Linked DNA regions of Homo sapiens: region 2 is linked to region 1. Evidence: fine-mapped expression QTL. Tissue or cell type: whole blood. Region 1 holds a variant in brackets; the other region holds the start of a gene. All regions are shown on one strand. Distances are from middle to middle.

Region 1 (2,682 bases):
CGCCTGTAATCCTAGCTACTCAAAGGGCCAACATGGGAGGATCACTTAAGGCCAGGAGTTTGAGACCAGCTTGGGCAACATAGCGAGACCCATATCTCTTAAAAAAAAGCAGACAGGGTGGCTAGATCTAAGGCAGCCTGAAGATGAGCCAGCAAGTTGAGGATAGCAGAGTGGCAAGAGCACAGAACTTGGGCCCTTGGGCCGGGCACAGTGGCTCACATCTGTAATCCCAGCAGTTTAGGAGGCTGAGGCAGGCAGATCACCTGAGATCAGGAGCTCAAAACCAGCCTGGCCAACATGGTGAAACCCCATCTCTACTAAAAATACAAAAATTAGCTGGCCATGGTGGTGTGGACCTGTAATCTCAGCTACTCGGGAGGCTGAGGCAGGAGAATCACTTGAACCTGGGAGATGGAGGTTGCAGTGAGACGAGATCAAGCCACTGCACTCCATCCTGGGTGACAGAGCGAGAGTCTGTCTCAAAAAAAAAAGAACTTGGGTCCTTGATGACACCAGCCAGCTGCTGAATTAATTAACTCTGGATCCCATCTAATTTAGGACTTCTTAAGTGAATATTTCCTTACTAAGTAATTTTGATTTTTTTTTAAAAATTAAATATGGAATGCTTTATGAATGTTTGTGTCATCCTTGCGCAGGTGGAGGTTGCAGTGAGCCAAGATCGAGCCACTGCACTCCAGTATGAGCAACAGAGTGAGACCCTGTCCCCTACTAAAAAAAAAAGCAGTTTTGAGATTTAATTCAGGTATCTTTTAAAGTGTACACTTCAGTGGCTTTTTTTGTTGTTGTTGTTTTGTTTTTTTGAGACAGGGTCTCACTCTGTTGACCAGGCTGGAGTGCAGTGGTGCAATCATGGCTCACTGAAGCCTCGACCTCCTGGGCTCCAGAGATTCTCCCGCTTCAGCCTCCTGAGTAGCCAGGACTACAGATGTGCACCACTATGCCCAGTTAATTTTTCTTTTTTTTTTTTCAGTAGAGATGAAGTCTCATTATGTTGCCCAGGCTTGTCTTGAACTCCTGGGCTCCAGTGAGCCTCCTGCCTCAGCCTACCAAAGTGCTAGGATTACAGGTGTGAGCCACCATACCCTTACTGATTTTTAGTGTATTCATTGACAAAGTTGTGCAACAATCACCACTAATTTCACCACCTCAAAAAGAAACCCCATACCCACTAGCAGTCACTTCCTGTTCCCC[C/G]CCACCACCGCATGCAACCATTAATCTTAACAAGGGATCTTCGGGGAAAGCGTCCAGTCTTTCACAAGGAAGTATGATGTTAGCTGGGGGTTTTTGTAGATATCCTTTATCTGGTTGAGAAAGTCCCCTTCTCTCCCTAGTTTGTTGAATGCTTTTAAACTGTTAGATTTTGTCGAATGTTTTTAGGCATCTATTGGAGGGGTGGGTTTTGTTCTTTATTCAATTAATATGGTGTATTACATTAATTGCTGTGTAAATATTAACATAATGGTTCAACACACTCCTTGAAATAATGATATTCATTTGTAAGCTCAGGTGAGCCACATTATAAGAGCATCTGATAGCTGACAATCCAGCTTACACAACTGTAGGCTTGTTTAATTAGGTTAACAGATTTTTTTTTTCTCTACCAAGTTTTTCTTTTCTCTTTTTTTTTTTTTCTGAGACAAAGTCTTGCTCTGTCGCCCAGGCTAGAGTGCAGTGGCACCATCTTGACTCACTGCAACGTCTGCCTCCCAGGTTCAAGCAATTCTCCTGCTTTGGCCTCCTAACTAGCTGGGATAACAGGCATGTGCCACCACACCCAGCTAATTTTTGTATTTTTATTTAGTAGAGATGGGGTTTCACCATGCTGGCCAGGCTGGTCTTGAACACCTGACCTCAGGTGATCCGCCTGCCTCGGCCTACCAAAGTGCCGGGATTACAACCGTGAGCCATTGTGCCTGACCACTACCAAGTTTTTCTGAAGAAGAAAATTCATTGTTAGTGAAGGGGTTCAGGACATGCCACCCCAAAATATGCCACTCTGGCATATTATTTTGAGCTGAAGCCACTTGAGAAACAGCCGGTGCAGGAAGAACCCTCTGAATTCCATCTTTTTACCTAAATACAGTTCATAAAATTTCCCATGAGAAAGATGCCCTCTCTGTACCAGGAAGAGAAGCACATTCCCATCACCGGAGACTGAGGGTTGATGGCGCAGTGGGCCTGTACAAATGAACCTACTAAAATAACCCCATGTATTTCCTAGTCATTGTCCCACAACTAACTGCCTTTAGCTCAAGCCTCTTTGTCTTGTCACATCCCCACAATTTGTCATTCTTTTTTTTTTTTTTTAGACAGAGTCTCTGTTGCCCAGGCTGGAGTGCAGTGGCACAGTCTTGGCTCACTGCAACCTCTGCCTCCCAGGTTCAAGCAATTTTCCTGCCTCAGCCTCCCGAGGAGCTGAGACTACAGGCACCCGCCACCAAGCCCAGCTAATTTTTGTATTTTTAGTAGAGACGGGATTTCCTCATGTTGGCCAGGCTGGTCTTGAACTCTTGACCTCAGGTGATCCACCAGCTTTGGCCTCCCAAAGTGCTGGGATTACAGGTGTGAGCCACCAAGCCTGGCCTGTCATTCTTTTGTTGTTGTTGTTCTCTTTATAGCCGGCTCAGACTCCAGTTCACATCACCCACCGATTTATTATTC
Region 2 (2,682 bases), 61 kb before region 1:
GCCTGGGTGAAAAAAAAAAAGAAGAAAGTATGTCCAAATTTGAATCTAATCAAACCTGTTTTCAGAAAATACAGGAGACAGAGGAATAGATTAAAGGACCTCACAAGGAAGCAATCAACCAAGTCCAGAATATAGAACATTCTACTGGACAATGGAGCCAGTTCTCTCCAGAAATCAACCGCATGAACAAAAAAACAAACACAGGGCCAGGCTCAGTGGCTCATGCCTGTAATCCCAACACTTTGGGAAGCTGAGGCGGAAGGATCCCTTGAGCCCAGGAGTTTGAGACCAACCTAGGCAAAACAGGGAGACCCTATCTCTACAAAACACGGTCTCAGGGAGCTTCCACCTCCACCCCCACAGATCTGTTCCCATGGGGTTTCTGGGCTCAATGTTTCTTGGTCTCCAGGGAGGCCCTGCCCTGTCATGCCCCTGACCACAGTGGCTCTTCCGAGCTCCTCTCTTCTCCCTCCACTTTATATCCCAGCGGGCATTCTCTTTCCTCCACTCCCCTTCTTTTATTTTCTCTCTCACCCCCATCCAGAGACGCACAGACCCAAATGTGCACAGGCACATGCTCGCTGTCTGTGTCTTGTCATCTCGTCTTTTGTCTTGGATCTTACCTTGTCTTTGTCCCTGAATCTCCTTGTTCCTCTCATCTCTCCCGGTGTTTACATCTGTCTTTTTCCCTGAGCCTCGCTCCCTCCATCCATTCCTCCGCCCTCTCATTTTTTTTCCCGACTCCCTCCTGCCTCCTCCCTTTCTCCTTTGATTTTCCTGGTCCCTCATCTCTCCTCCCTCCTCTTTCTCACTCTCATGCTCCCTTTTTCGCTCTCTTGAGTACATGCACTTGCTTTCTCTCTCTTGCTTTTCCTCTTTCTCACCTTAGCTCCTGGCCTCGGGCGCTGTCTACACCCCACCCCATCCCTCGCTCTTTGAGAAGCCTCTGTGCAGTGCCCAGGTCCTGGCGGCCCAGCTTGGAAGTTCCTGTGGTACCCCTTGAGAGGCCCTAGGGCCACAGCATTTCCTCCCAGGGGTGACTTGGTAGTGATACGCTCTGTTTCTTCACTTCTGCAATTGCCAGACAGCATAGAGGCTGAGGCTGGGGCCAGGACCCAGACAGAGACACACGGTCACTGCAGCTGAAGCCGCTGCCCCTGCTACAGGTAAGGGGGAATCCTGGCCCCTGCTGGGCAAGGGGGAGGCATATAAAAATGTCCTCAGGAGGCAAACCAAGGTCATGCCCCCAGGCTGCACCTAAGCAGATGGGTGCTTCTATTTCTTTTCTTTTCTTTTTTTTTTTTTTTTTTTTTGAGACAGGGTCTCTCACTCTGTTGTCCAGGCAGAAGTGCAGTGGCGCGATCATGGCTCGCTGCAGCCTGGACCTGCCAGGCTCAGGTGATCCTCCCACTTCAGCCTCCCGAGTATCTGGGACTAGAGGCATGCTCTACCACGCCTGGCTAATTTTTGTATTTTTTGTGGAGACGAGGTCTTGCCTTGTTGCCCAGACTGGTCTCTAACTCCTGGGCTCAAGCAATCAGCCTGCCTCGGCCTCCCAAAGTGCTGGGATTGCAGGCTTGAGTCACTGTGCTCGGCTGCTTCTGTTTTTAAGGGATTTTTCTGGCACCTTTCTCAGGCCCAGAGTCTCATGTTTAGAAATAACTTCTAGTGTCCAAACATTCCTGGAGAACCCAACACCCAAGTTTGGCTTTTCTGAGGCTGGGGCAGTGCTGACCCCAGAGATCCCACTGGGAGGTGTTGATGGTGGTGATGGTGGCAGTGCTGACCCCAGAGACCCTACTGGGAGGTGGTGATGGTGGTGATGGGGGCAGCTTGGATCTCAGGGAGCCAAATGACATCTACTTGACTAGCTGTGTGGTCTTGGCCAAGTTACGCTCCATCTCTGTGCAGTTTTCTAAATTGTCAAATAATGATAATCCCATCTCCCCCACAGAATTGTCGGGTCATATAAAGGATCTGGTACAGGGCGGGGTACTTAGGAACTCACTAAATGCTAGGTTTGCGGGGTGGGGAAGGGGGTGCTGAAAATAACCAGGTTCTTATACACAGGGCCAAGCCCACAAACAATAGCCCCTATCAGGTCCCAGGTGCTGGGGACAGGGCCCAGGCTGGCACCCACCGTCCTCTGCTTGCAGGAGGTCCAGACATGGGGCTGTGCACTCACTCACTTGTGAAATATGACAGAACCAGCAGGCTCTCTCCCCACACCTCTGGCTGCTCTCCTTTAGCTCTGACTGAATACCCAGCTGTGTTCCAGGTGTTTGGGGTGGTGTGTGTGTTGGGGGAGGCGGTAGGGGTGGGAGGTGTGTTGGGGAGTGCTAGAGAAGCAAAAGAGACACCACTATCTTTAGGTGCTGACAAACCGCCGGAGAAAGAGTTCAGCCCCTTAGATGACTGGGTCCTGGGCCTCAGGTGGGCATCCGGGGTTTCGATCTCAGCTCCTGCTGACAAGCCGGGGCCTTGAGTTGTTCGGAAGTTCCACTTTCCTCCTTTGCAGATTGCAGGTTAAAATACTGACCTCTGTGGGCCGGGCATGGTGGCTCACGTCTGTAATCCCAGCACTTTAGGAGGCCGAGGCGGGTAGATCACGAGGTCAAGAGATGGAGACCATCCTGGCGAACATGGTGAAACCCCATCTCTACTAAAAATACAAAAATTAGC

What was found. PIP is the estimated chance that this variant, and not a neighbour inherited with it, causes the effect.
Region 2: it holds the start of PTAFR, and the variant in region 1 is fine-mapped to the expression of PTAFR in whole blood (TOPMed, PIP above 0.99).

The regions. Positions count from the first base shown.
Region 1 is chr1:28,113,973-28,116,654 of GRCh38, reverse strand. No RefSeq gene overlaps it. Among named protein-coding and RNA genes, the nearest start is that of EYA3, 27 kb to the right of the region's middle. The variant C/G (reference allele first, on the strand shown) is at 1,213.
Region 2 is chr1:28,175,076-28,177,757 of GRCh38, reverse strand. It overlaps PTAFR (platelet activating factor receptor), which reads left to right and starts at 1,068. Exons shown (of 2, transcript NM_000952.5): 1 at 1,068-1,166.